Linked DNA regions of Homo sapiens. The protein of the gene in region 1 purifies or fractionates together with the protein of each later gene. This does not show direct contact. Each region holds a gene or a part of one and is shown in the gene's direction. Other genes may lie near its edges. The genes, in order: SH2D4A, DFFA, DTD1, NDRG1, SNAP23, PGAM4 and TF.

Region 1 (3,500 bases):
TAAGGAAAAAAATCATAATACTATCTTTTTTTAGTGTGAATGAGTTTCTCAGATGTAAACTTTTCCTCGTTATCAAAGGAATCTCTGGTAGTTTGAGAGGGTTCTTTTGAGACCATGGGGGAGGAAATCTTTGTACATTAAGACTTAAAGCAGACAAGGTGCAGTGGCTCATGCCTGTCATTGCAGCACTTTGGGTGGCCGAGGTAGGAGGATCACTTGAGTCCAGGAGTTCTGACCAGCCTGGAAATATAGTGAGACCTTTTCTTTAGGAAAAATAAAAAATTAGCTGGGCATGGTGGTACATGCCTATAGTCCCAACTACTTGGGAGGCTGAGGTGGTGTAATTGCTTGAGCTCAGGAGATCGAGGCCACACTGAACTGAAATCACACCTCTGCACTCCACCCTGGGTGACAGAGTGAGACTGTGTGTCAAAAAAAAAAAAAAAAAAAAAAAGACTTAAAGCATATACACATACAGACACAGAAAAATACACATTGTCCACCCTCCTCACTCCGTTCTCACTAACCCCCACACCCCCGCCTTGCTGTTTACATGCGAAGTCTGTCATGGGTGAATACCAAAGTTGTGAAAACACAGCACACTTTTCAAGGTCACTTGCAGAGGCATCTAAGACCGTCTCTTTTCATGTTTCATTAAACCAGGAAAATAAAATTTTGTAAAATCACATATGGTTTCAAAGATTGAGAAAATGAATCTCTCTTGCATCCCTGGTATATGCCCAGGTTCACAAAGGAGGTCAGTGTAGCGTCCTTTACTTTTTACTGTCTTTTATTAAAACTTTTTTCCAGTGATGCCTTTATCATGACAAGGAAATAAACAGAAATATGTCATTTCCTCTTGTTATGATCAATACAACTATTTATGAAACACCTCCTGTTTCAGACACTATGTGAAGCACATTTATGCATATAATGCCTAACCTTCACAAAACTTCTGCAAAGTCAGCAGTGACAGTCCTGTTTTACAGATGATGAGACTTAGAGAAGTTCATTTTTTTTTTTGCTTGTTTGTTTGTTTGAGATGGAGTCTCACTCTGTCGCCCTGGTTGGAGTGCAGTGGTACAATCTTGGCTCAATGCAACCTTCGTCTCCCGGGTTCAAGCAATTCTCCTGCCTCAGCCTCCCAAGTAGCTGGGATTACAGGCATGTGCCACCACACCCAGCTAATTTTTGAATTTTTAGTAGAGGTGGGGTTTCTCCATGTTGGCCAGGCTGGTCTTGAACCCCAGACCTCAAACGATCTGCCCACCTGGGCCTCCCAAAGTGCTGGGATTACAGGCCTGAGCCACTGAAGCTGGCCATGAAACTTAGATAAGTTGAGTAATATATGCAAGGTTATACCACCAATAGATGCCCAGTTCTGTTGGATTTTACATTATTCTGCACTATCCAAAATACAACTTTTCCTCCAACAAATAACATGGCCAAACTGAAACATAACTCTTTTTCTTTCTAAACTGGTTTATGCACCTTCTTGGATTCCCCAGTCAGAGTTTTTCAGATATAATTGGGTCTCTTCTGGGCACCATGTTCACTGTGAACATAACATATATTAGTGTGATGGGGTGACCTTGGGGACTAGCAGCCAAAGGGTTCTTGCCACTAGAGTCAATGGCCCAGACTCTGTTAGACTTTGGGTTTCTCGTGTTTGCTGAATTGGTCTCCTTGTGATGACTTAAAATAATAATTTCAGTTTCTTTGCTTACATTTCTCGCTTGTAGGGTTTTGAATCTACCTCTCAGAAACCCTGTGTTAACTTTGTTAGTCAAATGATCATGAGAAAAGTATGTTAATATAAGTGGGGAAAGTTCTATCAATATCTCACGTCAAAAGTGTATTACTCCCTTAAATTGAAAACTTGGAAAAATATATTTTGCATTAAATTAGTTCCTCTTCTGACTACAGAAAGGGAAAAAGTTACTCCCACTTCCCCTAAAATCCCATCACTTCTCTTTCATCTTGCGCTGTCTTTGAAGATAAAGCCATAGACCGTCCAAAGCAATGCTGTCATGGCTGGTGCTGCCAGAGGTGCTTATCTGTGCTGCAGACCTGCTAAGCCCATGACCCTTGTGGGTTGACAGGTCACTCGTGCATCTGATCCCTGAAGGCTTGTGCTCCCTGCCTCCCCTTCTCCCGCCTTTCTGGTTAGTACTGAGCTAAGTGCTGCTTTTTCTTAGCAGTTCTTAGCCACACGGTGGTTTTGAAGGTTGTTCATTTCATTAAAAACATCATAGGCCACCCCTGCCATTCCTTGACCCCCTCTAGCTTATCACTTAGAAGTTCCTTCATTGTCATCTGGTCATTTTTCACTACGAATACACAGACCCCTGTGCTTAGTGTTTGGGGATCATCACTAAAATTGTTGTGTATTGTGCATCACAGAAACTTGTCTATTATTCTTTTTTTTTTTTTTTTTTTTTAAAGACAGAGTCTTGCTCTGTCTCCCAAGCTGCAGTGCAGTGGTGTGAGATTTCAACTCACTGCAACCTCTGTCTCCCTAGCTGCAGTGCAGTGGTGTGACATTTCAACTCACTGCAACCTCTGCCTCCCAGGTTCAAGCGATTCTCCTGCCTCAGCCTCCTGAGTGACTAGCTGGGATTATAAGCACCTGCTACCATGCCCAGCTAATTTTTGTATTTTCAGTAGAGACAGGGTTTCACCATGTTGGCCAGCCTGGTCTTGAACTCCTGACCTCAAGTGATCCACCCACCTCCGCCTCCCAAAGTGCTGGGATTACACGCATGACCCACCGTGCCCGACTTGTCTACTTGTTAGTAATCTGAAGGCTGAAGTAGAAGGGGCTGAAAAACTATCAGCATGTGAATTTAACTTAGTACTATATGAGAAGATCATTTCTGATTTCTGTAGTGGGAGAATGTGATACTTAGGGAGAGACGTATGGATCTACTCTGCTTGCTGGGGTAGCTAGAGGTCTACAGCCGCACCGTCCAGTGCAGTCACCACAAGCCACATGTGGCTCTTGAGCACAGGAAATGAGGCTAGTCTGGATTGAGGTGTGCTATACATGTAAACTACCGGATTTCAAAGACTTGGTAGAAGGAAAAGATAATGCCACATTAATAATTGTATATTCCTTATATATGGAACTGATGATATTTTGTATATCTTGGGTAAAGTAAAATACTTAATTTCACCTGTTCCTTTTGATTTTTTTTTTTTTTTGAGACAGAGTCTCTTGCTCTGTCTCCCAGGTTGGAGTACAGAGGCATGATCTCAGCTCACTGCAACCTCTGCCTCCTAAATTCTAGCGATTCTCCTTTCTCAGCCTCCCAAGTAGTTGGAGTTACAGGTGTGCGCCAGCACACCCAGCTAATTTTTGTATTATTAGTAGAGATGGGGTTTCACCATGTTGGCTAGGCTGGTCTCAAATTCCTGACCTTAGGTGATCCACCTGCCTCGGCCTTCCGAAGGGCTGGGATTACAGGTGTGAGCCAGGGCACCCGGCCTCCTTTTGATTT
Region 2 (3,500 bases), on another chromosome or scaffold:
GAAAAGAACACTTAGAACAGAATCAGGCACGTGATGAGTGTTCTGGTAGTGCTAGAAGTGATGATTGTGATTCTAGTTATTACCTACCAGGAGTTCTGCTCAGCTCTGGAGCCATACATACTTGAGATGCAGGGATAGATGTAATTTCCTTACGGTTATTTGTCATTTGCCAAATATTTTATTCTTTTCAGCCTGTGACATTCTGGCCATTGATAAGTCCCTGACACCAGTCACCCTGGTCCTGGCAGAGGATGGCACCATAGTGGATGATGACGATTACTTTCTGTGTCTACCTTCCAATACTAAGTTTGTGGCATTGGCTAGTAATGAGAAATGGGCATACAACAATTCAGGTAAGAAACTCTAGCCATGTATAAAACGGCCTATGCAGTACAGCATCCATCATGATTACTTTCACTGCACAGACAATTGCCATTTGTCTGGCTTTTTAAGCATTTGTTCAACAGATATTTACTGAGCACTTTCTATGTGCCAGACATGGTGCTGAGTCCTGGGGATAAAGATGAATGAGGCCAGGCACGGTGGGCAGATCACCTGAGCTCAGGAGTTTGAGACCAGCCTGGCCAACATGGCGAAAGTCCATCTCTACTGAAAATACAAAAACTAGCTGAGCATGGTGGCAGGCACCTGTAATCCCAGATACTTGGGAGGCTGAGGCGGGAGAATTGCTTGAACCTGGGAGGTGGAGGTTGCAGTGAGCTGAGATTGTGCCACTGCACTCCAGCCTGGGCGACAGAACGAGACTCTGTCTCAAAAAAAAAAAAAAATAGATGAATGAGACATGGGCCCAGTTCTCAACTAACTCATGGACAGACAGCAACTGAAATGCAGCCTGGCAGGGAGCTCAGTGCTGCAGGCTGCAGTCCAGCTGTTGAGGTCTGGATCCTGGCTCTACCATTTACTAACCAGGTGACCTTGTGCAAATTACATAACTTCTCAGTGCCTTGTTGACATAATAATTATAGAACCTGTCCCCTAAGATTGTTGTAAAGATAATATAGTACATATCAAACCAGGGTTTCTCAATGACACTGCTGACATTTGGGGCTGGAGTTGTGAAGAGGATGCTTTGTGTATGATAGGACGTTTAGTAGCATCCTAGATGTTACGAACCTCCCCCCACAACTGTGATAACCAAGAATAAATGACTCCAGATATTGTCAGATGTCTCCTGGGGGGCAAAATTGCTCCCACTTGAGAACCACTGATATGAAGTGTTTAGATCTTACCTGGCACATAGTTAAGGACTCAATAATTGTTACCTGTCCCTGCCATCATCATCATCACAGGAGATAGAAAGGGGACTAACATTGGTGACCAAGGATCAAGAAGTGTCTTGAGAGGGGATTAGTTTTAGGGAGGGACTTAAAAAAAAAAAAAGTGTCCTGAAGTGTGCCACAAAATTGAGGAAGTCATCCTACAGCAGTGGCCCTACCAGCCACCTTTGTGCTCAGGCCTAAGGGACAGCAATCGATGGCTACAGCTCTGCCAGTTAAAGAAGGGACCAATCCCCAAGCACAGAGAAATGCTGGCACAAATGACCGTTTTCGTATAAAAAACAGGACACACCTGGACACACAGAAACCAGAAAGGGAAGTGTGATTGGATTCCTTGTAGGTGTGACCACACATTGGGTTTAAATGGCTTTTTCTATGGAAGAATACAGAGCCGTTGCACACAGAGATAAAGATGAAAGAGGGTCAGGCACGGTGGCTTATGCCTGTAATCCCAGCACTTTGGGAGACCGAGGTGGGCAGATCACTTGAAGTCAGGAGTTTGAGACCAGCCTGGCCAACATGGTGAAAGCCCGTCTCTACTAAAAATACCAAAATTAGCTGGTCATGGTGGTGGGCACCTGTAATCCCAGCTACTTGCAAGGCTGAGGCAGGAGAATCGCTTGAACTCGGGCAGTGGAGGTTGCAGTGAGCCAAGATCGTGCCACTGCACTCCAGCCTGGGCAACAGAGTGAGACTCTGTCTCAAAAAAAAAAAAAATGAAAGAAGAGGGAAAATCAAGGTCCTGGATGGATATTGACCCTCCTGTGAATCCTTGAGATAAGATGCTTCTTTCCCATTGAAATTAATCTAGATCCTCAAGAGGTCTGTGTGTGCTGGGGGAGGAGGTGAAAACAGCACTTCAGGTTGTTCTGTGACTGGCATTTTCTCCCATGTGTCAGATGGAGGTACAGCTTGGATTTCCCAAGAGTCCTTTGATGTAGATGAAACAGACAGCGGGGCAGGGTTGAAGTGGAAGAATGTGGCCAGGCAGCTGAAAGAAGATCTGTCCAGCATCATCCTCCTATCAGAGGAGGACCTCCAGGTAAAGCCTCCTCCACAACCTGCAACAATGTTCATCCAGCCTCTGCCCCCCGCCCCAGCACCTTCTTAGCTTCCATACTTGCCATAGCAATTTCTTTGTTTTAATCTTAATTTTTAAATAATTCTTAAATTACAACTAAGATTTTTCATCTTCTCATTCTCACCTAGAGTAATTTTTCAACCCTCGTCACGAAGCAGAATTACCTGTGGATTTTTTTTTTTTTTTTTTTTTTTTTTTGAGACACAGTCTTACTCTGTCGCCCAGGCTGGAGTGCAGTGGTGCAATCTCAGCTCACTGCAGTCTCCACCTCCCGGGTTCAAGCAATTCTCCTGTCTCAGCGTCCCAGGTAGCTGGAATTACAGGTGCACACCAACACGCCTGGCTAATTTTGGTATTTTTAGTAGAGACAGCGTTTCATCATGTTGGCCAGGCTGCTCCTGAGTTCAAGTGATCCACCTGCCTCAGCCTCCCAAAGTGCTGAGATTATAGGCGTGAGCCACCGTGCCCGGCCAGATTTTTTTTTTAATACAAATGCCTGGGATCCACCCTAAACCTAGTTAGGTGGACGCTGGGGTCAGGGATGCCCTGCTAGAGAATGTAGCGTTGGAGTAGATGGCTTCACATCCCAGCGCTGTCACCACGACTTTGAGCCAGTAGCTTAGCTTCTCTCCTTGTGTTTTCTCTCTAGTAAGATTGGGATAGGCCAGGTGCAGTGGCTCACGCCTGTAATCTCAGCACTTTGGGAGGCCGAGGCGGGCAGATCACGAGGTCAGGAGATCGAGACCATCCTGGCTAACATGGTAAAACCCCATCTCTACTAAAAATACAAAAAATTAGCCGGGCCTGGTGGTGTGCACCTGTACCTGTAGTCCCAGCTACTCGGGATGCTGAGGCAGAAGAATCGCCTGAACCCAGGAGGTGGAGCTTGCAGTGAGCCGAGATCGCACCACTGCACTCCAGCCTGGGTGACAGAGAGAGACTCCATCTCAAAAAGAAAAAAAAGATTGGGATAAAAACAGTATGTTTTCATTCAAAGAAAATTTCTCTTTGAGACAGGGTCTTGCTTTGTCACCCAGTGCAGTGGCATGATCATAGCTCACTGCATCCTCGACTTCCTGGGCTCAAGCCATCCTCCCACCTCAACCTCTCAGGTAGCTGAG
Region 3 (3,500 bases), on another chromosome or scaffold:
CAACCCCTGCCTTTTTTTGTTTTTTCATTTGCTTGGTAGATCTTCCTCCATCCTTTTATTTTGAGCATATGTGTGTCTCTGCACGTGAGATGGGTTTCCTGAATACAGCACACTGATGGGTCTTGACTCTTTATCCGATTTGCCAGTCTGTGTCTTTGAATTGGAGCATTTAGCCCATTCACATTTAACGTTAATATTGTTATGTGTGAATTTGATCCTGTCATTATGATGTTAGCTGGTTATTTTGCTCGTTAGTTGATGCAGTTTCTTCCTAGCCTCGATGGTCTTTACAATTTGGCATGTTTTTGCAGTGGCTGGTACCTTTGTTCCTTTCCATGTTTAGTGCTTCCTTCAGGAGCTCTTTTAGGGCAGGCCTGGTGGTGACCAATCTCTCAGCATTTGCTTGTCTGTAAAGTATTTTATTTCTCCTTCACTTAGGAAGCTTAGTTTGGCTGGATATGAAATTCTGAGTTGAAAATTCTTTTCTTTAAGAATGTTGAATATTGGCCCCCACTCTCTTCTAGCTTGTAGAGTTTCTGCCGAGAGATCCGCTGTTAGTCTGATGGGCTTCCCTTTGTGGGTAACCCAACCTTTCTCTCTGGCTGCCCTTAACATTTTTTCCTTCATTTCAACTTTGGTGAATCTGACAATTATGCGTCTTGGAGTTGCTCTTCTCGAGCAGTATCTTTGTGGCGTTCTCTGTATTTCCTGAATGTGAATGTTGGCCTGCCTTGCTAGATTGGGGAAGTTCTCCTGGATAATATCCTGCAGCATGTTTTCCAACTTGGTTCCATTCTCCCCGTCACTTTCAGGTACACCAATCAGATGTAGATTTGGTCTTTTCACATAGTCCCATATTTCTTGGAGGTTTTGTTCGTTTCTTTTTATTCTTTTTTCTCTAAACTTCTCTTCTCGCTTCATTTCATTCATTTGATCTTCCATCACTGATACCCTTTCTTCCAGTTGATCGAATTGGCTATTGAGGCTTATGCGTTCGTCACATAGTTCTCGTGTCGTGGTTTTCAGCTCCATCAGGTCCTTTAAGGACTTCTCTGCATTGGTTATTCTAGTTAGCCATTCGTCTAATCTTTTTTCAAGGTTTTTATCTTCTTTGCCATGGGTTCGAACTTCCTCCTTTAGCTCGGAGTGGTTTGATCATCTGAAGCCTTCTTCTCTCAACTCGTCAAAGTCATTCTCTGTCCAGCTTTGTTCCATTGCTGGTGAGGAGCTGCATTCTTTTGGAGGAGGAGAGGTGCTCTGATTTTTAGAATTTTAAGTTTTTCTACTCTGTGTTTTCCTCATCTTTATGGTTTTATCTACCTTTGGTCTTTGATGATGGTGACGTACAGATAGGGTTTTGGTGTGGATGTCCTTTCTGTTTGTTTGTTTTCCTTCTAATAGTCAGGACCCTCAGCTGCAGGTCTGTTGGAGTTTGCTGGAGGTCCACTCCAGACCCTGTTTGCCTGGCTATCAGCAGTGGAGGCTGCAGAACAGTGGATATTGGTGAACAGCAAATGTTGCTGCCTGATCGTTCCTCTGGAAGTTTTGTCTCAGAGGAGTACCCGGCCGTGTGAGGTGTTAGTCTGCCCCTACAGTGCGGTGCCTCCCAGTTAGGCTACTCAGGGGTCAGGGACCCACTTGAGGAGGCAGTCTGTCTGTTCTCAGATCTCAAGCTGCATGCTGGGAGAACCACTACTCTCTTCAAAGCTGTCAGACAGGGACATTTAAGTCTGCAGAGGTTTCTGCTGCCTTTTGTTTGTCTGTGCCCTGTCCCCAGAGGTGGAGTCTACAGAGGCAGGCAGGCCTCCTTGAGCTGCGGTGGGCTCCACCCAGTTCGAGCTTCCCGGCCGCTTTGTTTGCCTACTCAAGCCTCGGCAATGGTGGGCGCCCCTCCCCCAGCCTTGCTGCCACCTTGCAATTTGATCTCAGACTGCTGTGCTAGCAATGAGCGAGGCTCTGTGGGCGTAGGACCCTCAGAGCCATGCGCGGGATATAATCTCCTGGTGTGCCGTTTGCTAAGACCATTGCAAAAGCGCATTATTAGGGTGGGAGTGACCCGATTTTCCAGGTGCTGTCTATCACCCCTTTCCTTGGCTAGGAAAGGGAATTCCCTGGCCCCTTGCGCTTCCCGGGCGAGGCGATGCCTCGCCCTGCTCGGTGTGCTGCAGCTACTGTCCTGCATCCACTGTCCAGCAATCCCCAGTGAGATGAACCCTGTACCTGAGTTGGAAATGCAGAAATCATTCGTCTTCTGCGTGGCTCACACTGGGAGGTGTAGACTGGAGCTGTTCCTATTTGGCCATCTTGGCTCCACCTCTGATAATTATTATTAACATAATGCTTTGGAATACTTTTTCTAAACAGGTAATTCTACATCTGTTTCTCTAACTTTACAAAGTTGGAGACATACTGTATATATATAGTGTCACCTGTTTTTTATCTTTTAACAGAATATCTTTAACATTTCTCTAGGTCATTCTTTTACTGTGAGCTTTATAATTTCCATCTGCACATCAAATATTTGAAGACTAAATTATCCCAATGCATTAAAAATGTAGAATATTGTAGAATATTTAATTGAAGTAAATGTAAAAGAAAAATACGTTCAACCAGGATTCCAAAGCTCATCTTAAGTTCAAAAACAAAGATTTTAATCTGTGCCAAGAAGATGGAGTTTCTCAAAGGTCAATGTGGGGAACAATTACAGTATTTCAGTTATTGGTATTGAAGGTAGGGAAACAAGTATGAATAGTCCCCAGGTCCGTAACTTGGGTTAACATCATCCACACAATGTAAGAACAAATGGGTTGTTTCTAATAGCTAAAAACTGAAAGTAATATGGTCCCCAGGAATGATGTTGTCTGTTCTCCACCCACTGGTTGTCTTTTAGAAAACTCTTAGGAAGGTGTGCAGGACTCTTACAGGTGGGTTTGGGTGTACGAGGGTAGCCCTTGGGGATATGGTGGCAGACAGAGCTGCAGAGCATGGGCTAGCTGTGGTTCCAGCTTGCCTTTCTCATGTGTGCACAGGGACTTCGCTATCCAGCTGGGCAGGGGAATGAGGGCTGTTAGTCTATGGAAGCATCTGCTTGTGATACAACCCTTTCTTAAGAAGGTGGCCTGCACTGAGTGTATCAGGAAGCACATCCATGGAGGTGGCACTGCCATGGCATATTGAGTCGTATTGAAATCTTTTGCTTTTACTGAAGTCCATCCAATTAGAATCTAGATCTGAGGGAATAGAAACTCTTCTGTTAGGCTTTAGCTTTAGTTTAACTTTTGGATGACAAATGCATGCATCATAGATCTCGGCAATACTAGCTGGTTTTTGTTATAGCCTCGGAATTACAAAAGGAAACCCTGAGACACTTGGACTTCTGTACCAAACAGCCAGGCATCCTTTGAGTAGTATTTAAAATGTCGCAAGACTAAGCATTTAGTTTATTCCCTCCCTGTCCCTGCATTTCCTTAAGCTCCCATCCCTCTACCTCCCTCATTGTT
Region 4 (3,500 bases), about 110 Mb from region 1:
GTGGTGGCACGCGCCTGTAATCCCAGCTACTCGGGAGGCTGAGACAGGAGAATCACTTGAACCTGGGAGGCAGAGGCTGCAGTGAGCCGAGATCGCGCCATGCACTGCAGCCTGGGTGAGACAGAGGGAGACTCTGTCTCAAAAACAGAGAAAAAGGAAAACAAAAGTGTATTCTCTCACAGCTCTGAGTCTAGAACTCCGATGTCAAGCGCTGGCAGGGCCGCCCCTCCGCCACAGGCTCCAGGGGAAATTCGTCCTTGCTTCTTACTGCTCCAGGTCGCTGTCGGCATTCCTTGGCTAGTGGCTGCTCACACCACTCTCTGCCTCTGTCTTCACATGGTCTTCTCCTCTGTGTCTGTTTTATTTCTCCCTCTCCTTCCTCTTTTAAGGATACTTTCCATTGGATTTCATCCCGGCTCATGTAATCCAGGATTATCTCATCTCAAGATCCTTAATTAATTACACCTGCAAAAACCCTTTTTCCCAGCAAGTTTGCATTCCCAAGTTCAAGAGATTTGACATGGACATATCTTTTGAGGGCCACAGTTTAGCCCACTAGAGTCCTCTTTCCCCTTTTACGATTCATTCCACAGCGTGTGACACATTTTCCCTGTCCTGAGTGTGTAATCTGAAACTGATAGGAATTGGGAAAAATTCACAGCCACTGTCTCTGTTTCACTGGAGGAGGGATGTCAGACATAGCGTTGAGCATCTGATCTGATTATACCCCAAGTTATTTGGAGACTGGTTGGTCCGGCCATGGTGTCTGAGGGTACCCCCAGATCGCTATAGTTGGTTTTGATCTGAAATCCCAGCGTGATTCCTGACTATTTTTTCCAGAGTTTGCTCTTAGTAGCCAGTTGACCTCCTTGCTGCCTAAATGATCCTGGACTGTTTGATGCAGCTCAAGCTTGACACCGGCTTTCTTTGACCCCCAACTCCAACTTCTCATCTGGTTGCCACTGGTCATATCAGACCCTTGTGTGAAACCTACAGTGTCTGCCCTCGTACAAATGAGAAACAGAGCAAACAAGTTGTTTGTCGCAAATAACATTCAAAAAGCACCCAGAGACGGGGAGGCTGAGGCCGACTTCCCCAAGGCTCTGGTTGGCCGTGGTGGGAGTTGCAATTGCCCTTCTTTTCAGTAACTTCCTGTGGCATGAGTTGATTTTGCTTTTCAAGCATGAAAAACTTCTTTTCAGCTCTTCCCATTGGAAAACAATTACTAACATTTGCCTCCAATTTTTACTGTTAGTAGAGGTGAGAACACAACCTCCATTAAGTCCTACAACCTAGTGAAGTAGGCAACATTCTCTCTCTTCCCTTTTTTTTTTTTTTTTTTTTAAGAGATCTGAGGCTCAGAGAGGTTGAAAGATTTGCCTACGAAAGGGACAGTGATGAAGCTAAGCTCTAGATCCAGGATGTCTGACTTCAAATTGAAACTCCCAAAGTAATGAGTTTGGAAGGGTGGGGTGTGGCCTTTCCAGGATGGGGGTCTTTTCTGCTCCCAGCGGATAGTGAAACCCCTGTCTGCACCTGGTTGGGCGTGTTGCTTTCCCAAAGGTTTTTTTTTTAGGTCCGTCGCTGTCTTGTGGATTAGGCATTATTATCTTTACTTTGTCTCCAAATAACCTGGAGAATGGAGAGAGTAGTGACCAGCTCAGGGCCACAGTGCGATGAGGACCATCTTCTCACCTCTCTAAATGCAGGAAGAAATGCAGAGTAACGTGGAAGTGGTCCACACCTACCGCCAGCACATTGTGAATGACATGAACCCCGGCAACCTGCACCTGTTCATCAATGCCTACAACAGGTATTGGGATGTAGTTCAGCCACATCATTGCTATTTATGAGGTGTCTTCTGTAGATCCGAAATGTGGGACAGATGAGAGGGAGAGTATAAAATGAGCGGAAGAGGCAGGCTCTGAGTTTGAGCAAATAGATTAATAGGACAGGTGTCCCCAGGAAGGACACCTGGCCTGTAAGCTGGTTCCTGGCATTCAGCTCGCCTTGCAGGGATCTGAACAAACACTCCAGACCACTGGGGGTGCAGACGTGAGAGGGACGCAGTCGCACACTCAGAGGGTTGAGAGTAAATATGTGTGCCCGCTGCTGACCTTCACGAAAGGCCAAATGTAAGAAGAGCTAAGTGAGAGAGCAGCAAAGCACTCCTGGAGGCCGGGGATAATCCAGGCAGGCTTCTGGGAGTTTGTCATTCCAAGGATAAGGAGGACCTGAACATGGCCTTTGCCTAAGGCGTGGCCCTCTCAACCAGCACTAGGTGCTTATCTGGAGCTCAGCTAGGGGAGGAGACAGCTCAGGGCCATTGGTGTCAGCCAGAGACTCTGTAATCTTCCAGGGAGCTCGCTCAACCTGCTGAGCTCGCTCTGCCACGCTCGCAGAACAGGAGATAGAAATGAGCCTCATAGTGTTTATCTCTGCTCAAATGTTAATAAAGTGACTTCTTGAAATTAACATTTGTAACAGAGCTTAGTATCTGCCTCCTTTTACAATCCTGCCCTCATCTCAGTGGTAACATCCTCACTGTGGATGTGACTGAAGAAACCGAAACCTGGCAGTGCGGTTCACTTAGTAAACACTTTCTGAGAACTGGAGCGAGTCAGGCATTCGGCTGGGCGCTGGAGACACAGAGGAAACCAGCACAGCCCGCAGACTCCACACTGTTAACTTGCCCGTGTAGATAGCACCGTAATTAACTGACCCCTCTCCAAATCCCACTGTGAAGGTCCTGGAATTACTGTCATTTCCTGTTGAGGAAGCAAAGGCGCAAAGAGATCCTGTGTTCTCCCCAAGGCCACACAGCTAGAAAGTGGCAGAGCATGATTTGGATCCTGCTTGTCTAACTCCAGGCTGTGAGCTGGGAAAGAGCTTCTCATGTTGGGAGCTGCAAGATAGCAGAGAGGGTGGGTGGCTGCGTGCAGGAAAGGTGGTCGGCACTGGGCTGGACCCACACTGGGCCTCACACGAGTGCAGTGGGAAACCACCACAGGGTTTGAGACAGGGAATGGAAAGATGAGGCCTGAGTTTTAAAGAGATCATTTGGGTGCTTTATAGAGGACTCAGAGTTGGTGAGGCTGGGACTTAAACTAAGAGGCTGCGAGAGCATTTGGGAGGTGGCCCCTCTGTCAGGTGGGGGCTCTGACTAGGGGGACAGGGAAGGCGGGGACCCTCTATGGTGGAGAATCTGACTTCTACTCCTGGAAAAAAAAGCCCCACAAATATTTGTGACAAAATGAGGGGGCTCTGCTTGAAATGCATGTGTTGTGCTGTCCCTCTAACCAGGTCTGTGGACACCAAGAGGGTGTGGAGTCCTGAAAGCCACAGGGCCTCTCTCAAGTTGGGGATGTGGGTAGCTTACCAGAATGGCCACTGGCAGGACCTCCTGGGCTTGGCTGGATGGGAGTGGGAGATTTCTCCAGGGGAGGGGTCCTCATGCTAATGATGCATTTGTTTCCTGCAGCCGGCGCGACCTGGAGATT
Region 5 (3,500 bases), on another chromosome or scaffold:
CCCAAAGTGCTGGGATTATAGGCTTGAACCACCACACCCGGCCATTGTTTTGTTTTAAAGGGAAGGATAGGCTGGCAATTCTTTTTGTTTTTTCCTTTAATGGAAACAGTCTCACTATGTTGTCTGGGCTGGTCTTGAGCTCCGGTACTCAAGAAATCCTCCTGCCTCGGCCTCCCAAAGTGCTGGGATTATAGGCATGAGCCACTGTGCCCGGCCTGAGCTGGCAATTTTTAAAGATAGAATAGCATCATGAATTTGGCCTGTGATCAGATTTTTTTTTCTACATATTTTGGAATGCTAAAATTCTGTGTTCTTTCCTAGTCTCTGGAAAGTACGAGGAGAATCCTGGGTTTAGCCATTGAGGTAAGAAAATGTTAGTCATCAACTTAAGTATAGAAATTTATAGGAGCGATCCTAATACTTCTGGCTGGAATTAGTATTAAAGGGTAATGTATCAATATGCTTTATTATTTGAAATTAACAGTTGCTGAAATGTCAAACCATGCACTAATGGGAATTTTCTGTTTTTCCCTTTAACAGTATTGGAATATGACAGGGAAGATGAATTCACTATGAGTTTGTGACTTAATTATTTTGGGGGCTGCTATGTTAAAGTGTGTTAGTTTAAGAATACTAGTTCTGTCTGTAGCTCTAATCCTCTGAGAGCTTGGGTTTCTAAATTATTCTGTGTTGCTCTTGTAGGTTTTGTTTCTGTTGTTTTTGGTTTGTTTTGTTGTACTATCAGCTTTTCCCCCCTTGTCTTAGTCTCAGGATGCAGGAATCAAGACCATCACTATGCTGGATGAACAAAAGGGTAAGTTAAATTATTAGCAGAAATTCTTAATTTGACTGTGATGCCAAAAAGCCCTATCAAATTAGCCACATACAAATTTCAGCCTTTGGGAGAGCCTTCCCTTTGTAAAATAAGAATGTTATGTTTACTTCTTGTCTTCTGATTTGAATTATATATCATGTTCACTGTCTATTTGGGATGGCAGGCAACAATGCCCAATTGTATATACCAAGTATGTGTTAGGCCAGCATGGCTTATTTTGTGTATTGGTTATATGTGCCTTAGACATTATGATAGTAACATAGCTGGGATTACAGGCACCTGCCACCACACCCAACTATGTTTTTCTTTTTTTTTGGGGTGGGGGACGGAGTTTCGCTATTTTTGTCTAGTTTTGGGGGTGGGGGATGAAGTTTCGCTCTTCTTGCCCAGGCTGGAGTGCAATGGCGTGATCTTGGCTCACTGCAACCTCCTCCTCCTGGGTTCAAGTGATTCTCCTGCCTCAGCTTCCTGAGTAGCTGAGATTACTGGTGCCCACCACCACACCCGGCTAAGTTTTTGTATTTTTAGTAGAGACGGGGTTTTACCATGTTGGCCAGGCTGGTCTCGAACTCCTAACCTCAGGTGATCCACCCGCCTTGACCTCCCAAAGTGCTGGGATTACAGGTGTGAGCCACCGTGCCGGGCCTTTTGTTTTGTTTTGTTTTGTTTTTTTAATTTTTATTTTTTGAGTCGGAGTCTTACTCTGTCACCCAGGCTCGAGTGCAGTGGTGCAATCGTGGCTTACTCCAGGATCCTCTACCTCCCACGTTCAAGTGATTCTCCTGGCTCAGCCTCCTGAGTTGCTGGGATTACAGGTGTCCACCACCACACCCAGCTAATTTTTTGTGTTTTTAGTAGAGATAGGGTTTCACCATGTTGGCCAGGTTGATGTCGAACTCTTGACTTCAAGAGTCACTTGATCCGCCCACGTCGGCCTCCCGAAGTGCTGGGATTATAGGCGTGAGCCACCGTGTCTGGCCAGACATTGTGATATTCTTACATCATCCTCAGAAATCAAGTTCTAAAACAGATCTAGATTCAGGTATGCTTGGAAACACTTGAGTTGAGTTGGCCCTGAGTAATCAGGTCTAGTTTTTATTACTCTTATAATAGCCCTCAGGTTTTGAACCTATTATAGAAATGATGGGGATTTGACCTCGTCAAAGTACCCTTAACTTGGTTGTAAGGATGATCTCTAAATAACCGTCCCTTGGTCCTACTATACAAGATTCTTTTTTTTTTTTTTTTTTTCGAGCGGGAGTCCCACTCTGTCATCCAGGCTGGAGTTCAGTGGTGCAATCGCAGCTCACTGCAACCTCCAACTGCCGGGTTCAAGCAATTCTCCTGCCTCAGCCTCCCAGGTAGCTAGGATTACGGCACCCATCACCACACCCAGCTAATTTTTGTATTTTTAGTAGAGATGGGGTTTCACCATGTTGGCCAGGCTGGTCTTGAATTCCTGACCTCAGGTCATCGCCCACCTCGGCCTCCCAAAGTGCTGGGATCACAGGCGTGAGCCACCATACCCAGCCATATACAAGCTTTTTAGAACAAATTTTTCCACAGCAAGAGGCTAGGTGCCTCCGGATCAGTACGTGAAAGATTGTTATCATGTTGAATCGCTTCTAATACCTTTTGACACTGACATACTCACTGTGGGGAGTTATTGGTAGATTCAAGGTTGAAGTTTGCTGTTCCATAATAATAGCATTTTCTGGTTGACACTGTGAATGGAACACAAAGTGTTAACTTCACAACTTATTCTTAGAACAACTAAACCGCATAGAAGAAGGCTTGGACCAAATAAATAAGGACATGAGAGAGACAGAGAAGACTTTAACAGAACTCAACAAATGCTGTGGCCTTTGTGTCTGCCCATGTAATAGGTGAGTTGATAAATTAAGATGGTTTCAAAATAAGTAATGAGAGTACCCCACCTTCTCCCACCAGCTAAGGTCAGAAGTATGACTGGGCTTAATGAGGAACTCTATTAGATAAATCTAAGTTGTCTCTCCTTCAGGCAGATTAAGCTTTTTGTGTAAATACTGCGTGTTCACTGAAAACTGTGACTTACATTTGACCAATCCTGGGATCAAGTCCAATTTCAATTTGTAGTAATACATGAAAAGGTTAGGAAGTATAGGGAAATGTATATCTGGATGATGGAAAGCAGGATGGAGTTATTTTCTTTTCCTTTCAAAGGAGGAGTATTAACAAAATATATATTTTGTGGTAGGCACATGAGGGATGGCCAAAAGAGTAGAAGAGTTGGGAAAGAATGGCAAAACATAAAAAATACATAAATCTAATGTTAGATTATATGATAGTGAGCAAGGCTAAATCTAATGTTAGATTATATGATAGTGACCAAGGCTAGGTATACAGAACTGATAAAGGTTGGGTTGGAGAGCATCTTATAGAAGAGGTAGGATGTGGATTGGGCTTTGAGTGATAAGAAGGATTTGGATGAACAGGGAGGAACAGTGAGGGCATTTCCTATGAAAGGTTCAAAATAAAGATTAACAAGGAGCTTGACTTAACTGAGCTGTGTGACTCATGTAGATGAGAAGTGGAAAGTAAGATATAAGTAGGTAGTAGAGGAACTTGAATGCCAAACTAAGGAGTTGACAGATTGGAGTGGAGTATAAAAAGAAACGACAGTATC
Region 6 (3,443 bases), on another chromosome or scaffold:
GTACCACCTTCTAACATACTCCATAACTTGCTGATTTATTCTGTTTATTGCTTATTGTCTGCCTTCCTGTGGTGGTTTTAAAATACGCCCACAAATTCTTTGCTACTCCTTCCTTCAAGAGGTGGAATTTAATCCTTTCCCCTTCGGTGTGGCCTGAACTTAATGACTTGTTTCTTGTTTTTTGTTGTTGTTGTTGTTTTGGTTTTTGTTTTTGTTTTTGTTTTTGAGACTCAATTCTGTCTCGCAGGCTGGAGTGCTGTGGCACGATCTCAGTTCACTGCAACTTCCGCCTCCCGGGTTGAAGTGATTCTCCTGCATCAGCCTCCCCAGTACCTGAGATTACGGGCGCATGCCACCACACCCGGCTAATTTTTTGTATTTTAAGTAGAGACAAGGTTTCACCATGTTGACTAGGCTGGTCTCGAACACCTGACCTCAAGTGATCCACCCGCCTCGCCCTCCCAAAGTGCTGGGATTACAGGCATGAGCCACCACACCTGGCCTAATGACTTGTTTCTAATGAATAGACTACGGTAGAAGCGACAAGGTGTGACTTCCAAGACTAGGTCATAAAAAACATTGCAAGAGGAGAAAAAAGCATTGTGTTTTCCTTGTTGTCCTCTCTCCTGAATCACGCAATCTGGGGGAAGCCACCTACCAAGTATGAAGACATACAAGCAGCCTTATGGAGAGGTTCATATGGTGAGGAACTGAGGCCTCATGTCAAAAACCAGCAAAGACCTAAGGCCTCCCGCCAATAGCCAGGTAAGTGAACCACCTTGGAAACTGCTCCTTCAGACCTAAGTTAAGCCTTTAAACTACTACATCCCCAGACACCATATTGACTACAACTTCATGAGACACCCTGAGCCAGAACTACCCATCTAAGCTGCTCCCAAATTATTGAGTCATAGGAAATGTGAGATAATAAATGTTTGTTGCTTTAAGCCACTAAATTTTGGGGTTATTTGTTACACTGCAATAATTAAGTAATACACTTCCCACTAGAATAAAAACTCCATGAAGATAGGACTCTGTTTTTTCACTGATATTAGGCTGAACCACATGAAATCATCATAGTCAAACACCGGCAATTTCATATAAATCAATCTAATATATCCCATGGAAACAGTGGTTCCTCTGGTGAGGGGAAATGAGTGGTTAGGGAATAAGGGTGGGAAAAAGAATTTTCAGCGTATAACCTTTTGTACCTTTTACTTCAAATGGTATAAAAAGTATTGCAGCCCACCGCCATGGCCGCCTACAAACTGGTGCTGATCCGGCACGGCGAGAGCACATGGAACCTGGAGAACCGCTTCAGCTGCTGGTACGACGCCGATCTGAGCCCGGCGGGCCACGAGGAGGCGAAGCGCGGCGGGCAGGCGCTACGAGATGCTGGCTATGAGTTTGACATCTGCCTCACCTCAGTGCAGAAGAGAGTGATCCGGACCCTCTGGACAGTGCTAGATGCCATTGATCAGATGTGGCTGCCAGTGGTGAGGACTTGGCGCCTCAATGAGCGGCACTATGGGGGTCTAACCGGTCTCAATAAAGCAGAAACTGCTGCAAAGCATGGTGAGGCCCAGGTGAAGATCTGGAGGCGCTCCTATGATGTCCCACCACCTCCGATGGAGCCCGACCATCCTTTCTACAGCAACATCAGTAAGGATCGCAGGTATGCAGACCTCACAGAAGATCAGCTACCCTCCTATGAGAGTCCGAAGGATACTATTGCCAGAGCTCTGCCCTTCTGGAATGAAGAAATAGTTCCCCAGATCAAGGAGGGGAAACGTGTACTGATTGCAGCCCATGGCAACAGCCTCCAGGGCATTGCCAAGCATGTGGAGGGTCTCTCTGAAGAGGCTATCATGGAGCTGAACCTGCCGACTGGTATTCCCATCGTCTATGAATTGGACAAGAACTTGAAGCCTATCAAGCCCATGCAGTTTCTGGGGGATGAAGAGACGGTGTGCAAAGCCATAGAAGCTGTGGCTGCCCAGGGCAAGGCCAAGAAGTGAAGGCCAGCGGGGAGGATACTGTCCCCAGGAGCACCCTCCCTGCTGGTCTTGTCCCTCTGCCCCTCCCACCTGCACATGTCACACTGACCACATCTGTAGACATCTTGAGTTGTAGCTGCAGATGGGGACCAGTGGCTCCCATTTTCATTTTAGCCATTTTGTCGCCTGCACCCACTCCCTTCATACAATCTAGTCAGAATAGCAGTTCTAGAGCACAGGTTCTCAGTCTAAGCTGTGGAAAAGCTCCCCTTATCCAACAGAGTTTAAAAGTAGTGACTTGGGTTTTTGTGAGTGCTTTGTTTACTAAGGACTTTGGGGAGGAACATGCTAAGCCACGACCAATGAGGAGAAGCAACAGAGCCTGTCTGTCCCCATGAGCAGAGTCTGTCCTCTGCTCTTCTGCAGTCAGGCCACTGCCTGGGGGCTCTAGTCATTCCAGTGGAAGATGAATGTAATCTGCATGGTGATGTGACAACTGTTTCCTCCTTGACCCCAGAGGATCTGGCTCTAGGTTGGGATCAATCCTGAATTTCGTTATGTGTTATATTTACTTTTATTAAAAAAGTATAGTATATATTAATAATACAAAACAATAACCCTTCTGGGGTTTCTTGTGGCGGTTGAAATAGTCCCACATGTGGTCATCAGAAAATAAGCCATTCCTCATACCAATATAGGATCAGCTCCTTGACCTCTGAGGGGCAGGAGTGCTTCCTGGTGTGTGTATTAGAATCCCTTCCTGCCTTGTTTCATGGCAGTGAAATGCCTCTTGGTCCTGTCCAAGTGTGTCTTTCACTGATTTCTGAATCATGTTCTAGTTGCTTGACCCTGCCACATGGGCCCAGTGTTCATCTGAGCATAACTGTACTAAATCCTTTTACCAGATCAGTATAATAAAGGAGTGATGTGCAATTAAAAAAAAAAAGTATTACAACATCATTTTAGTTTTGGTGAGCTCAGAGAAACTTAAGCAGAAAATGCTGAACCATGCCCGCTGCTACTAACAAAGCAAGATGATTAATGGACTCTTGTAACTTCTCCAACTAATTTCTGTGGAGCTTTGAACAATTAGACCACCCAGTCTATGGTATTATGTTATGGAAGCCTGAACTAAGACATATGCATTCTTTTTTAAATTGGGATATAATTCACATGCTATAAAATTCAGCCTTTTAACCTACAGAATGGGAGAAAACATTTTGCAATCTACCCATCTGACAAAGGTCTAATATCCAGAATCTACAAGGAACTTAAACAATTTACAAGAAAAAAACAACCCCATCAAAAAGTGGGCAAAGGATATGAATAGACATTTCTCAAAAGAAGACATTTATGCGGCCAACAAACATATGAAAAAAAGCTCAACATCACAGATCATCAGAGAAATGCAAATCAAAACCACAATGAGATACCATCTCACACCAG
Region 7 (3,500 bases), on another chromosome or scaffold:
AGTTACAGTTGCTGTTTTCAGATGGCTGTCCTGAATCTATAAGGTAGCCCCCTGAATGACAGATAAGTCACTCTGACCGCCTTTTTTTTTCTCTCCCACTTCTGGACCTCTGCAGGTGTCTGGTTGAGAAGGGAGATGTGGCCTTTGTGAAACACCAGACTGTCCCACAGAACACTGGGGGTAAGTGCACCTGCTCCTCTGTCCCCCTAGATCACTAGATCCTGGTCACTGGTATTCACTTGTATTCAGGGATGCCTTTGTGGAAGTATTATGTACACTGTCAGACTTCAAAGCTCTGATTCTCAGTCTGTCTGCTCAGTGAAGAGAGACATGTTCACCTGAGTGCGCAGAATGATCAGGATTATGGGGCCCCCAATGGCCCTAAATCCTCCCCAACACACACTCCCACAGCTGCAAGCCTTGTGCTCCTTTCCCCTAAATACTTCAGTGCCTATTTCCTAAGAATAAGACAATCTCTTGCATACCCACAGTATGATTACCAAGATCAGGATCTTTTACATTATGTGGATTTAATACTCGTCACGTCCACAGTCCACATTTAACTGTTGTCAGTTATCCCAGTAATGCCTTTTATAGCTATTTACTGTACTTCTGGGTTGTGTCCATTGAGAAGGCCTAGAGGCAATGGCATACCAGCAGGAGTAAGCACCAAGATATTGGCTTGTAAGTACTCTTCTTTACTAAAAGGAACCAGAACTCCTTGGAAAAATAGCTGACTTCAGGGCTGGGGCAGGAAAAATAGATGCTGAGCCTAGAACAACACACTGAAGTGCTCAAACAGTGATGGGACACTCAAAGCATACAAGAACCAATTTGAAGGATCTCCTGTTGCCAAGTCTGGGAATTTTGAGCATTAAAATAAATAATGATAGCAGTAAGGGATAATAGCCCATTGAAAGAAATAAGAATGCATGAGGCAATACTGATTAAACAAATGAAGAAGGGAAAACTAATCAATGTGGAAGGAATGATAGAGTTAGAAAACTATCACTTGGCAACCAATATATTGATAACTGATTCAAGCAAGAATCAATGGGTGTTAAGCCGGGCGCAGTGGCTCACGCCTGTAATCCCAGAACTTTGGGAGGCCGAGGCGGGTGGATCATGAGGTCAGGAGATCGAGACCATCCTGGCCAACAAGGTGAAACCCCGTCTCTACTAAAAATACAAAAAATTAGCCGGGCGCGGTGGTGGGCGCCTGTAGTCCCAGCTACTCGGGAGGCTGAGGCAGGAGAATGGCGTGAACCTGGGAAGCGGAGCTTGCAGTGAGCCGAGATTGCGCCACTGCAGTCCGCAGTCCGGCCTGGGCGACAGAGCGAGACTCCGTCTCAAAAAAAAAAAAAAAAAAAAAAAGAATCAATGGGTGTTAACTTGTGGGTGAACGTTGGACAGCCATAATATTAATAAAAACAAACAAAACAAAGCAAAACAAACATTGGCCAGACTGAGCACTCCACACCTGACCCCTCAGTATCACTAAGTGCTAGCAGAGCCCACTGGAATTCAAGCTGTGAATACTTCCCTGCCTTCTCTCATGTTCATTCCCCAACTCCTCACTTTTCCTGGGCAACTCATCCAGAATGAACCGGCTCAGCACCAGCCCCTCCAGGAAGCCTTCCCAGATGGCATACCCTGTCCTACAAGAAGACTCCTCTGTTCATATTGCCATTATGATTGAATTCACCACACTCTGTAATACACTTTGGCTACAGAAACTCTTTGAGCTCTTTTTCTTCATCTTATATTCCCAGAACCTAGTGTAGCACATAGTACACAGCAGTTGCTAAGAATTTGTTTGCAGAAATATTGGGTTGACTAATTTTCCTTTCTTCCCTCGTATTATTGCTTTTTCCTTTAAGAGAGTGTTACCCTAAGCTTGGCTCTTTGCCACCCTTGATTTCTTTTGGTACTTTTCTGAGTAGAGCTCCCTTCTTTAAGCTTTGACTCTCTTACTCTTTGCAATGACTCAAAAATTCTTCCCTCCTGCATAGAATTAAGATAGGAGGCCTGACATCCAATCTCAATTCCATTCCAGTCTATTTCCCAAGGTGTCACTTTTATGTAGAGAGTACATTGGCATTGCAATTGTATTTTTTTACGTGTGTATATGGATGTCCTCATATATTGTAGTTGTATATATACAATCCATATACAACTCAACTGTCCTCATCTTTCTGTCAACGTTCCCTCCTCTTCTCCCAGCCTCTATCCTTATAGAGAATCCTGCTATACTCCCTGCCCATCAGGCCTAGATTAAGTCTGTCAGTCAATATCTTATTTCTTCAAAACGTGTCTTTTTTCAAACTAAATTTTGAAATAATTGTGTGTATTTAAGGTAGACAACATGATTTTTAAGAGCCAAAGTAATTTTGATGTATTGTAAGTTTGGGAACTACTGGTCTAATACCCCTGACTTAATATCACATTCCTGATAAATATTACTAAATGTAAGTCACATCATGTCTGATTCATCATACTTATATTTTGCACCTTCTTACCTTCTTCTGTTATTAATTTGTTGCTTTTTCAACTTATATTTTAGATTGAGGGTACATATGCAGGTTTGTTACATGGTATACTGCATGATGCTGAGGTTTGCGGTATGATTGAACCTGTCACCCAGGTAGTGAGCATAGCACACAACAGGTAGCTTTTCAACTCTTGCCCCCCTCTCTCCCTCCTCCAAAATCTGTCTTAAGTGCTATGGTATATACAAGAAGGAAGACACAAAACCACGTGGGCTTTTTTTTTTTCTTTTTTTTCTTTTTGAGATGGAGTCTCACTTTGTTGCTAGGCTGGAGTGCAGTGATGTGATCTCAGCTCACTGCAAACTCCGCCTCCCAGATTTAAGTGATTCTCCTGCCTCAGCCTCCCAAGTAGCTGGGACTACAGGCGTGCACCACCACGACCAGCTAATTTTTGTATTTTTAGTAGAGACGGGGTTTCACCATGTTGGCCAGGATGGTCTCCATCTCTTGGCCTCATGATCCGCCCACCTCGGCCTCTCAAAAGTGCTGGGATTACAGGTGTGACCCACCGCGCTCAGCCCACATGGGCTCTTTTATCACAATTTGTGTGTGTGTGTGTGTGTGTGTGTGTGTGTATGTGCATATTATAGGTGTGTGTAGGAAAAAGAATGTTAGAAATGTACCAATTTTGAAGGCGTAGACTATGAAATTACAAATGCTTCAAAATTTTCTTCCCAATACTTACGTGGCATTTTATAAATTTCCACCAATAAACGTGTATTATTTTTATTGAAAAAGCATATTTTTAACATGCCCTTCTAGATGCCCTCCTAGCCAGACTGAATCACCTCCCATTTGATTTTTCTTAATTTTCTACCTTTAGGTTCTGGCTCATTCATTAACATCAATTTCCATTCATAAGTCCTCACAAACCCACTTTTCCTCTTGCCTGAGTGCCTCACATACCCTACTGCCTGAGATGGTTCCAGAGGCGGTCTCCTCTCTCCCTTA

What was found.
Region 2: the proteins of SH2D4A (region 1) and DFFA purify together in Homo sapiens (co-immunoprecipitation; one large-scale study listed by IntAct). This does not show direct contact.
Region 3: the proteins of SH2D4A (region 1) and DTD1 fractionate together in Homo sapiens (co-fractionation; one large-scale study listed by BioGRID). This does not show direct contact.
Region 4: the proteins of SH2D4A (region 1) and NDRG1 fractionate together in Homo sapiens (co-fractionation; one large-scale study listed by BioGRID). This does not show direct contact.
Region 5: the proteins of SH2D4A (region 1) and SNAP23 purify together in Homo sapiens (co-immunoprecipitation; one large-scale study listed by IntAct). This does not show direct contact.
Region 6: the proteins of SH2D4A (region 1) and PGAM4 purify together in Homo sapiens (affinity purification with mass spectrometry; one large-scale study listed by BioGRID and IntAct). This does not show direct contact.
Region 7: the proteins of SH2D4A (region 1) and TF purify together in Homo sapiens (affinity purification with mass spectrometry; 3 studies listed by BioGRID and IntAct, with this or other methods). This does not show direct contact.

What each region holds. Positions count from the first base shown.
Region 1 is NC_000008.11:19,320,193-19,323,692, forward strand, and holds part of SH2D4A (SH2 domain-containing protein 4A), read left to right. Parts: intron 1-3,500. UniProt on the Homo sapiens protein: Inhibits estrogen-induced cell proliferation by competing with PLCG for binding to ESR1, blocking the effect of estrogen on PLCG and repressing estrogen-induced proliferation. May play a role in T-cell development and function.
Region 2 is NC_000001.11:10,466,030-10,469,529, reverse strand, and holds part of DFFA (DNA fragmentation factor subunit alpha), read left to right. Parts: intron 1-191; coding exon 192-353; intron 354-2,197; coding exon 2,198-2,340; intron 2,341-3,500. UniProt on the Homo sapiens protein: Inhibitor of the caspase-activated DNase (DFF40).
Region 3 is NC_000020.11:18,759,054-18,762,553, forward strand, and holds part of DTD1 (D-aminoacyl-tRNA deacylase 1), read left to right. Parts: intron 1-3,500. UniProt on the Homo sapiens protein: Possible ATPase involved in DNA replication, may facilitate loading of CDC45 onto pre-replication complexes. An aminoacyl-tRNA editing enzyme that deacylates mischarged D-aminoacyl-tRNAs.
Region 4 is NC_000008.11:133,248,753-133,252,252, reverse strand, and holds part of NDRG1 (protein NDRG1), read left to right. Parts: intron 1-1,709; coding exon 1,710-1,813; intron 1,814-3,481; coding exon 3,482-3,500. UniProt on the Homo sapiens protein: Stress-responsive protein involved in hormone responses, cell growth, and differentiation. Acts as a tumor suppressor in many cell types. Necessary but not sufficient for p53/TP53-mediated caspase activation and apoptosis.
Region 5 is NC_000015.10:42,512,634-42,516,133, forward strand, and holds part of SNAP23 (synaptosomal-associated protein 23), read left to right. Parts: intron 1-321; coding exon 322-363; intron 364-765; coding exon 766-814; intron 815-2,603; coding exon 2,604-2,721; intron 2,722-3,500. UniProt on the Homo sapiens protein: Essential component of the high affinity receptor for the general membrane fusion machinery and an important regulator of transport vesicle docking and fusion.
Region 6 is NC_000023.11:77,967,449-77,970,891, reverse strand, and holds PGAM4 (phosphoglycerate mutase 4), read left to right. Parts: upstream 1-1,253; coding exon 1,254-2,018; 3' UTR 2,019-2,943; downstream 2,944-3,443.
Region 7 is NC_000003.12:133,770,393-133,773,892, forward strand, and holds part of TF (serotransferrin isoform 1 precursor), read left to right. Parts: intron 1-115; coding exon 116-180; intron 181-3,500. UniProt on the Homo sapiens protein: Transferrins are iron binding transport proteins which can bind two Fe(3+) ions in association with the binding of an anion, usually bicarbonate.